2 separate regions of the Homo sapiens genome follow, and region 1 is linked to region 2. Evidence: fine-mapped expression QTL. A gene starts in region 2. The other region holds a variant in brackets. All regions are shown on one strand. Distances are between the middles of the regions.

Region 1 (5,000 bases), 35 kb before region 2:
TAGATGGGGGTAGTCTTCCTATGTTACCCAGACTGGGCTCAAATTCCTGGGCTCAAACGATCGATCTCCCCACCTCAGCCTCCAAAAGTGCTGGGATGGCAGGTGTAAGCCACTGTGCCTGGCCCCCAGCTAATTTTTAAATTCAATGCCATACTTTATAGCAGAGAGAAACCCATACCTCCCTACTCCATTTAGACCCCAGTTCCTTTAGGTCTGTCTGTTTCACACAGCCATTATGGAGAATTTTCTCCCACCCTCACCCCTACCCCATACTCCTCAGTTCTTCGACCCCTCTCCCATCCCCGTCTCAGGGCCCATCACTTACTCTTCGTCCTCCTCTGCCCCCTGCAGCGTCTGCTCCTTCCGCTGCTGCCGGCAGATAAGGATGCCCGTGGCAGCCACAGCAGTAGCAATGATGGCGGCGATGATGCCCCCGATGATGCCGCCTGTGGCCCCTGCGCCTGCTGTGTTGGGGGTCTCTGCAAGGAGAGGGACAGCGTGAGGGGGTCTCCAGGAGGAAGCCACAGCTCCTTATTCCAAGCGACCATCCCACCCCACATCATCGCCTGCCTGTCTATGTCCTCTCCCATGGGCAGGGGACATTCTTTCATTCAACTCAAACTGCTGAGCATGAGGAAGGAGCGAGGATGTGTGCCCCGCATGGGAGATGAGTGGAGAACAAAACATACAAAGTGTCTACCTTCATGGAACTTTGATTCTGGTTGGGCAGGGAGAACAACAGTAAGCAAACCAGTACAATAGCTCACATGCCAGATGGGAGTAAGTCACGGGGGATACAAAAATATACAGTGCGGAAGTGATAGGAGGTGCAAAGTGGGGTCCCCGAAGGTAGTGGGAGGGCCTCTACCTTACTGTAAGGTGACAACTGAGCAAGGGCCTGAAAGAGACACCGGGGATGAGTCATGAGAGTGTCTGGGGGTATCGCAGGCAGCGCAAACAGCCAGCGGCCCTGCAGGAGGCTTGTGGGGCTCTATGGTTTTTTTTGAGACGGTCTCGCTTTGTCACCCAGGCTAGAGTGCAGTGGCATGATCACCACCAACTGTAGCCCCAATCTCCTGGGCTCAAGCGATCCTCCCACCTCACCCTCCGGAGTGGCTGGAACTACAGGCATGTGCCGCCAGGCCCAGCTTTTTTTTTTTTTTTTTGAATTTTTTTGTAGAGATGGGGTTTTGCCATGTTGCCCAGGCTGGTCTTGAACTCCTGGGCTCAAGTGATCCTCCCGCCTCGGCCTCCCAACGTTCTGGGATTATGCCGTGCTCGGCCTGCCTTGTATTGTTTTTAAAGAACAGCAAGTAGACTGTGTAGCTGGGGCAGAATGAGGCGGGGCAGAGTGGGAAGATGAGAGGAGAGGAGACAGGACCAGGGGCGGCTAGAAGACAGAGAATGCGGGGACAGAATTCTGGGATCCAGAATCACCTCTGGGGACTAGAATCTCCTTCCACTTATCAGGAAGGGGGTTAGGGCTTGGGGCAGTGACTGACGCCTGTAATCCCAGCGCTTTGGGAGGGCGAGGCGGGCGGATTGTTCAAGACCAGCCAGGGCAACGAGCACAAGACCTCATCTCTAGAAAAAATTTTAAAAATTAGCCGGGGGCTAGCCGGGCGCGTTGGCTCACGCCTGTAATCCCAGCACTTTGGGAGGCCGAGGCAGGTGGATTACCTGAGGTTGGGAGTTTGAGACCAGCCTGACCAACATGGAGAAACCCTGTCTCTACTAAAAATACAAAATGTTAGCTGGGCATGCTAGCGCGCGCCTGTAATCCCAGCTACTCAGGAGGCTGAGGCAGGAGAATTGCTTGAACCTGGGAAGCGGAGGTTGCCGTGAGCCAAGATCGCGCCATTGCACTCCAGCCTGGATAAGAGTGAAACTCCGTCTTAAAAAAAAAAAAAAAAAATTAGCCAGGGGCCAGGCACAGTGACTCACACCTGTCATCCCAGCACTTTTGGAGGCTGAAGTGGGAGGATCGATCGCTTGAGCCCAGGAGTTTGAGCCCAATCTGGGTAATATAGGGAGACCACCCCACTTCTTAAAAAAAAAAAGGCTGGGTGCGTTACTCAAGAGGCTGAGACAGGAGAATTGCTTGAACTTGGGAGGT[G/A]GAGGGTGCAGTGAGCCGAGATCGTACCACTGCACTCCAGCCTGGGTAACAGAGCTAGACACCGTCTCAAAAAAAAAAAAAAAAAAAAAAAAAAAAAAGGCAAGACAGGAAAAGGGGTCGAGAAGCGAGAAGCCTGTTTGCTCCTGGGCCTCTCCTTCCTTGCTAGCACCTCCCGTTTCCATTTCTCAAGTCTTTCCTAATGGAAGAGTTTTTGGAGTGGTTACCCGTTTACTTGCCAATTTCCATACTAGACTGTGTGCCTGAGGTTCGGCACACAGTAGGTGTTTGCTGGGTGTGTAAGGAGGACTCAGCATGGCACTGAAGGATCCACTGTGTGCCAGGCGGACCCAATTCCCCGCCCCTGCCCTCCGGTTGTCCGGGTGGGGTGGGTGGGTGAGTACAGACAACAAACAACCAGAGGAAGTAACAAGTATGGAAGGGCCCGTGGGGGTCACGCATGCATCGGCCTCACTCTCCAGATGAGGAGGAAGCTTCCAGAGGACGCTGGACTGTTGGATCTCCACTGCTCCCGTTCCACAGCCTGGCATCCTCTGGAGGGCTTCAGAGGGTGGGGGAGTGAGAGAGAGAGACTGCCCCTCGGTCCACACACACACCTTCATCCTAAACATACTGCTGCTATTCTTGTGGTCATTATGGCCGTGCACACCGGAGGACGGCACTGGGTCTGTGCAGGCCACAGCTGCAGCCCCAGCACTGCCTGGCACAGGGCTTGGTGGGGTCTGTGGAGGTCAATGAGGCTGCATGAGGGCATCACGGGCATGTCCTTACTGGGTCCCACGACAGCCTTGTGAGGCCGATGGAAACACCTGCCCCGTGTTACAGAGGAGGCATGGAGGCTTGGGAGAGCAGAGGTGACGCGGGTAAAAACCTGTCCCTTACTGAGCCTGGGAGTTCAAGGACCAAGGGCCGCCCCTCCCCCCGTCTTTGCTTTTCCAGTTGAGAGGAGCTGGAGGGAGCTGCCGCCACTCCCAGGGAGCCACTGAAAAGTCCCCTGGGGTGATCCCTGGGGGCAAGGATGGAGAAGGAGGGGAGCCACAGTCGGGGTGGCCAGAGGTGGGACTTCCCCAGCACCCCCCGCCTGCCCCATGCCCTCAGGGCCCCTAAGAATGGGAGTGGGGAGCAGCCCTCCCCTCCCGAGACCCCCAGCAACCTGGGGGAGTTGAGGTCTGAGGCTCCACTGGATCACAGCCCTCTGGCCTCATTCTCTCAGGACGCAGGGAACCTGGCTGAGCCCCTGCTGTCCCCACCCCCACCTCCACCCGAGGGCCCAGGAGTCCAGAGAACTCCTGCCTCTGATGGGTCTGGCCACACCATCCAGAAAGGCAGCCTCTGTCCTGGGACCCAGGAGTCCAAATGTCCAGGCCTCTGAGTCCCCAATCCAGTGACCTGAATCCTAGTTGCACGAGCCTTGCGGTTCTCGGCCATCCAATGCGTCTTTCAAGGATCCAAGTGGTCCGAGCCCCACAGCCTTCCCCAGTCTAACCCCTGCCAGGCTCTCGTTCCCCGGGGGCGTGGATCAGCTCTTCCCAGCCCTGGGACCTAGGAGTCCCTGTCCCACCCTCTCTTTCCCCAACATGCAAGGAGGGGGTCTGATGTATTACAAGACACCCCTGATGTTTTCCTCCAAGGCATTTATTAACTCCTGAGTGTCACGGGGCCAGGGGAAGGCTGGAGCCAAAACCAAGTCTCTGGGGGCGGGGGTCCTCTCTGGATCCCCACTACTCAGCTCCCCGGGCTCCCCATGCAGCCCTAGAGACGGGAGAAGTCCAGTGTGCTGTTCCACCTCCCTCCAAGTCCCAAGAAAGTGGGAGGCAGTGTTCCACTCCAGTGTCGTCCAGACGAACAAGTCCAACCAGTCTGGAACCCTAGGCCGGCGTGGTCAGGTCGGGGGCGGGAGGGCCGGGCCTGGCTCTGTCTCTGTCTGTGTCCAGGTCACACATAAACTGCCCGCCGTGAGATGAGGGAGCCGTCCAGCTGGGACTCCATGTCATCCTCGAGTGCTGGGGGTGGAGGCAACATGAGGCCTTTCTCTGCCTTCTCTTCCTCCTCCTCCTCCTCCTCATCCTTGCCATCTGGTTCCATGGGACCAGGGACTACTGGTGTCCAGAAGACGGGGTCCCCATTTCCCAACACCTGAGCTTTCGGATCGTAGAATCCCCCGTCGCCACTGGCTCCTCCTCCTGCTCCTCCAGGGCTCTTCCTCCTCCTCCTCACCCTCAGCAGGATGAAGGCCAAGGACCCCCCAGCCAGAAGCAGCAGCACCAGCAGTGTCCCCCCCACGGCCCCCCACACCAGCGGGCCCACATCTCGGGGCGAGGCCCTGGGGGTTTCTGAGGAGAGAGAGAAGGAGGGGTGAGAGAGAGAGAAAGGGAGACACAAGATCACGAGGATCGCTCTGGGGAGTGAGGGGGTGGGGGAGATGCAGGATAGGCGGGGATGGAGGGAGCGGGAGTGACCAGAATGAGGGGGTGACTCTGGGCAGAAGAATGGAGGAGGAGGAGGAGGGGGGTGGGGAAGCAGAAGCCCCTCCGCCCTTCGCTACAGCCTGAGCACCACTTTGTACAAGGAGGGGGATGCCAACCGGTGGTCCCCAGGTGTTAGTGTTTTGCAAAATTTAAATTGCTAGCCAACCTTTCAAAAATCAGGCGATTTCACTTAAAAATCCAGGTTTCTCTTAGGGGGACAAATCAGATCTAGCAACACCAAACTCCCATGTCTGGCGATCGCCGTAGCCGAGTGGAAGCTGGCTATTTGGATGCAATAGATCTGGCCGCCCGGTCACTGGCCAGGACCCTGGTGCCATCTGACTTCGCAGCCCTCCCTGAATGTGCTGTGGGGTCCTCACAAAGCTATGAGCTTGGGG
Region 2 (5,444 bases):
GAATTCACCCAGAGGTGCCAGTTCTGATCTCATCTGCCTATTTCTGCCTGAAGGGAGAGGCAGGGGATGGAAGCGGAGTTCCCAGCTCTGGGTCAAAGCTGGGAGGCCAGTGAGAGCCATCCTGGGGGAAATGAGGCCAGAGAGGTGGCCGGGGTTCCCCCAAGATCCCCCTGAGCTCTCTTCTGCGCAAACCCTCGGGAAACTCTAGCATCCCAGAGTTTGTCGCTGGGAATACACAACCGGGTCACCTGCAAGGGGCGGGGCCAGCGCCTCTTTCAAGGGTTCCCTCCCAGCCCCTCCCTCCCCAGGGGGGCCGCTCTCCTCCCCTAGTGGGGTGGATGGAAGGACGCCAGGGGGTCCAAGGCATAGCAATGGGAGGGACGGGGGATAAGGGCGGCGGCTCCACTCGTCCACCTCCTGCTATGGCTCTGAGGACAAAGGCGCTACCAGAGGATAGATAAGGTCCCGAAACCGGGGAGTCCGGAACCCGGAGCCAGGAGCGCCCGCCCCGCCCCTCCCTGGCTCGGCGAGAGTGAAACCAGGAAAACTTCCCCGGCGACGTCTCCGTCGCCCCCGACCATTCATAGGGAAAGGGAGGAGTCTCCCAGCCTCTGGGACTCGGGGCCTCCCGTTCTATCTGGGACTCAGGCGACTGAGACTCCAGCCTCAAGACAGAGCCTTCGACCCTTGATCATATCTGGAGCCCAAGAGACGGGGCCCGCTGCTCGCACTTCTGTTTGGATCTCAGAAGACGTTCCTCTGCCTACAATTAAGTCTGAAGCCCACGAGATCGAGTCTCCTGTCCCCCGGTTCTGCCGGGAACCCTGAAAACGAAGCCCCCTGCCCACAATTAAATCCAGAAGCTACAAGTTTGATCCTCTCTCGCCCCCAGTTTTACCTAGATCCCAGTTAGACTTAGCGCCTAGCCTCCATTCTACCAGGGACCCTGAAGACGGAGCCCCCGGCCCCTAATTTTTCTGGAGTCCACGGAGTCAGAACCCCCAACTCCCTGAGGTTCGGGGTTGGAGCTCCGAGCTCAGGCCCTTCCCCCTAAGTCGCCAGAACTCTTATCCTTAGCCCTCCAAGGGACCCGAATCAGGTCCGCTTGTCCTCAGTTCTCTCCGGGCCTCAGACGCCCAAGCCGGGAAGAAGGAAAAATAGGGGAGGGAGGTGGTCTCGCCTCTTCCTCGAGACCTTACTGCGGTAGGTGGGGGGAACATTCCCCACATTCCTGAGAGGGGTAGAGGAGACAGAGACCCAGATCCGGGTGAACTACTCGGCGCGGGGTGGGGAGGGGGCACCAGGCCTTCCTGGGATTTAACCCTTTCGGCGCGGGAATCCGAGAAATGGGGAGGGGGACAGACAAGCAGGCGTAGGATGGGCAATTGGATTAAGAAGGATGGGGGTGGTGGTGAGAGAGATGCAGAAAGGAGGGGTCAGAGTCTCCTCGAGAGAATCGGACGTGTAGGGGGTCGGAGTCTGTGGGGCCAGCCAGGAAGGGGGCACGCGAGAGGGGGCTCGGGGAGCCGGGGGTGGGCGGGGAAGGTGCTCGGCTTCCCCAGCTCGGAAGGTAAGGTTGGAGGGGGTCCGCGCGAGGGCAGGGGGCCGTCCGCTCGTCTCACCGGTTTCCAGGAGCAGCAGCAGCAGCAGCGGCCACAGCAGCGGCGTCGGCGGCGATCTCGACGGCAGGAGGGCAGCGGCCCGGGCCATGGAGGGCCCGGGAGGGGACTGGGCCCGGCCGGAGGCCCGCGGGCCACTCTGTGGGGGCCGATCGGCTGGGCGGTTTAGTAGGTGCCTGTGGGGCTCCGGCTCCGGCTCCGGGCCGGTTCCCGCTGCGCTCTAGCCTCCCTGTTCTGCTCTCCCGGCCCAGCTCTCCCCGCCCGGCTCGGCACCCCCGGCCTCTCGCTCAGCTCCGGCGGTTCGAACCCGCTGACGTCACAGGATCCACCCGCTGCTCCCCCGAGTCAAGCCGACCCTGGCTCCGGCCCCGCCCCCTCCTGGCGTTCTGACCCCGCCCCCCGGATTCCACCCCTGTTCCTCCCCGGGATTCCATTCTCGCTCCTCCCCAGGATTCTAAGGTCGCCCCTGCCAAAGAATTCTGTCTCCTTCGCTCCCGGCGTTAAACCACGCCCCCTAAGGTCTAGCCACGCCCCCTCTGCTCCCGAGTAGTTCCCACGCCCCGCCCCCTGCCTACCGGCCGCCTCGCCAAGGTCTTGCCACGCCCCTTTCGGCCCTTCCGGCCGACTCCGCCCCCACCAGCCCCGCCTCCACCAGCCCCGCCCCTCGCCCTAGCCGGAGTTCTCTCGGTCTCTTAGCTCAGTCCGTCCTGGCCTCTGTCCCACCCACAGTTCGAATCCTGCCCTTTCCTGCCTGCCCGGGTCCTCTCATCACAGTTGCCTGAGGCACGTGGGGCTTTACGGTTCTGCCCCCAGCACGTCCCGGTTGTGCGACCTCCCCGCAGGTCGAGCCCATCGCCCTGAGCCTGTTTCTCGTACCCTCGTGCGTTTCTAATCTCTGCCCCGAACTCTAGGTGTCGCTGCACTCGTTTCTTTCTGGATTTCTCTGTCTCTCTTACGTGTCTTTGTGTCTCTCTCACTCTCTTTGGGTCTTCCTCTCTGTCCCTGTATTTCTGCCTCTCTGGGTCTTTCCGTCCTCATGCTTCGGTGTCGCTCTGTTTCTGGTCTTCCTTTGTCAGTCACTGTTTCTTTATTTCAATAAAAGAGACGGGGCGGGGGGGCGGCGGGGTCTCACTATGTTGCTGAGGCTGGCCTCAAGCGATCCTCCCGGCTCGGCCTCCCAAGATGCTGGGATTACAGGCGTGAGCCACCAAGCCCGGCCTGTCTGTCACTGTTTCTGGGTCACTTGGTCCCCATGTCTCTTTCCATCCTTTGACTCTGTCTCTGTGTCTCTCTGTCTCTATCTGTGTGCCTCTCTGTCTCTGTCTCTATTTCTGTGTATCTCTGTCTCTATCGGCCTGTCTCTGTGCCTCTCTGTCTCTGTGTGCCTCTCTGTCTCTGTGTTTCTCTGTCTCTATCTCTGTGCCTCTCTATCTCTGTGCTTCTCTGTCTCTGTCTCTCCGTGTGTCTCTCTCTGTCTCTATCTGTGTCTCTCTGTCCCTGTCTCTTTCTCTGTGTCTCCCTCTCGGCGTCTCTTGTCTCTGCGTGCGAGTCTCTCTCGCTGTCTCTCTGTCCCTGCTCTGTTCTCTGCTTCCTTCCCTCCCTACCTCCCTGCGCGCCCTGGTCCTCCCCTCCCAACACCTGCTCCGCGCCGCCTTCTCACCGCAGCCACCCGCCAGGGGGCAGCAGAGACCGGCCCCCGCGCTGCGCTGGCCCGGCCGGGCTGGGTGGGGCTGGGCTCCAGTCCGGCCTCCGGACCTGGTCACTCCCCGCGTCCTTGTCCCACTTCCCCTATCTCCCCAGCCTCCTCGCGTCTTTGTGTCTCTCGCTCAGACTCGGGCCCTTTGTCTCTCCCAGCGGCTCGCCCTCCTCCCTACCCCCACCTACCTCTTCGCATTCTTTGGGCTGCCCAGGGGGAGCTGGTGAGGCCGCGCCGGGGGGCGGGATGAGGGCGCGAAGCGGGAGGCCGGGGGAGGGGGTGCCACGGAGCGCCAGTCTGGGCCCAAGTTCGTCCAGGGCCAGGAGGCGCGGAGCTGCTCAGCTGGGGGCAGGTGCTTGGGGGCTTCTTGCCCTAGCAAGAGGACCACCTAGGCTCGCCCTCCCTTCCACCTGCCACACACCTGGGCTTTCCTCCCCAGAAGGACTAGGTTTCAAGTAGCAGAGGCTGTTATCCCTCCGCATTCGAGTCTTAGTTATGATCCTTTTTTTTTTTTTTTCTTTGAGACGGAGTCTCGCTCTGTCGCCCAGGCTGGAGGGCAGTGGCGCGATCTCGGCTCACTGCAACCTCTGCCTCCTGGGTTCAAGCGATTCTCCTGAGTCAGCCTCCTGAGTAGCTGGGATTACAGGCGCGCGCCACCACGCCCGGCTAATTTTTGTATTTTTAGTAGAGACGGGGTTTCACCATGTTGGTCAGGCTGGTCTCAAACTCCTGACCTCCTGATCCACCCGCTTCAGCCTCCCAAAATGCTGGGATTGCAGGTGTGAGCCACCGCGCCCGGCACTTACGATACTGTTAATACATGTAGTCAGCACTTACCGTGTGCCAGGCACTGATCTAAGTGCACTGCGAATATTATCTCATGTAAGCCATGCAGCGCCATGGGCGATAGGGAAACTGAAGCAGAGAGATGAAGTGACTCACTGAGTTACAAAATGGCAGAGCCAGGGCGGGGCGCCCTGGCTGACGCCTGTAATCCCAGCACTTTGGGAGGCTGAGGCGGGTGGATCACTTGAGTTCAGGAGTTCGAGACCAGCCTGGCCGACATGGTGAAACCCTGTCTCTACTTGGGAGGCTGAGGCAGGAGAATCGCTTGAACCCGGGAGTTGGAGGTTGCAGTGAGCCGAGATCGCACCACTGCACTCCAGCCTGGGCAACAGAGTGAGACTCAGTCTGAAAAACATAAAATAAAATAGAAATTAAAAATAAATAAAAATAAACAAAATGGCAGAGCCAGAGCTGACTCTTCTAAGCACCTTATTTCTCTTAGTTAGTTCCTCACAGGGATCCCATGAAGGGGACACCATGGTGATCCCCATTTCACTGAAAAGTAAACTGAGGCACAGGGTGGTTGTTTGCCCCAAGCCACCCAGCAAAGACACATAGCAGGCCGGGTGCTTCTTTTGGGCCCGGATGGTCTGTGCTCTTTTTGTTTTTGAGACGGAGTCTGGCTCTGTTGCCAAGGCTGGAGTGCAGTGGCGCAATCAATCTCGGCTCGCTGCAACCTCCGCCCCCCAGGTTTGAGTGATTCTCCTGCCTCAGCCTCCTGAGTAGCTGGGATTACAGGCACGCACCACCACGCCCGGCTAATTTTTGTATTTTTAGTAGTGACGGGCTTTCACCATGTTGGTCAGGCTGGTCTCGAACTCCTGACCTTGTGATCTGCCTGCATTAGCCTCCCAAAGTGCTGGGATTACAGGGGTGAGCTACTGCACCCGGCCAGTCTGTGCTTTTAACCTCCATGCCATGTGAGCTCCAGATAGCTTGTGTCTCAGGCTTGGCACAAACTGGGTGTGAGGATGGCTGGACAAATAGGCGCACACATAATAAATGCATAGCAGCTACAGCTACTCGGGAGGCCGAGGTGGGAGGATCACCTGAGCCCAGGGAGGTTGAGGCTGCAGTGAGCTGTGATTGAGCCACTGCACTCCAGCCTGGGAGACAGAGAGATTTTGTCTCTAAAATAAATAAATACACAAATAGGCCTTGCGCAGTGGCTCATGTCTGCAATCCCAGCACTTTGGGAGGCCAAGGCTGGCAGATCACTTGAATTTAGGGGTTCAAGACACGCCTGGCAACATGGTAGAGCCCCGTCTCTTAAAATATATATA

Alleles and levels. Alleles are on the strand shown, and positions count from the first base shown. SD is a standard deviation of normalised expression in the study named.
As copies of A replace G in region 1, the expression in monocytes of the gene that starts at base 1,939 in region 2 goes up (large effect, 1.8 SD a copy in Fairfax 2014).

The links. PIP is the estimated chance that this variant, and not a neighbour inherited with it, causes the effect.
Region 1: its variant is the best candidate, but not a certain one, in a credible set for the expression of NECTIN2 in monocytes (Fairfax 2014, PIP 0.66).

Annotation. Positions count from the first base shown.
Region 1 is chr19:44,877,690-44,882,689 of GRCh38, reverse strand. NECTIN2 (nectin cell adhesion molecule 2) reads right to left here. Exons shown (of 9, transcript NM_001042724.2): 6 at 326-479. Among named protein-coding and RNA genes, the nearest start is that of TOMM40, 11 kb to the left of the region's middle. RefSeq lists enhancers at 1,255-2,104, 2,105-2,954, 2,955-3,804. The variant G/A (reference allele first, on the strand shown) is at 2,117.
Region 2 is chr19:44,842,792-44,848,235 of GRCh38, reverse strand. It overlaps NECTIN2 (nectin cell adhesion molecule 2), which reads right to left and starts at 1,939. Exons shown (of 9, transcript NM_001042724.2): 1 at 1,623-1,939. The coding sequence starts at 1,710. RefSeq lists an enhancer at 1-229 and silencers at 1,869-1,968, 2,099-2,178, 2,259-2,308, 3,176-3,575.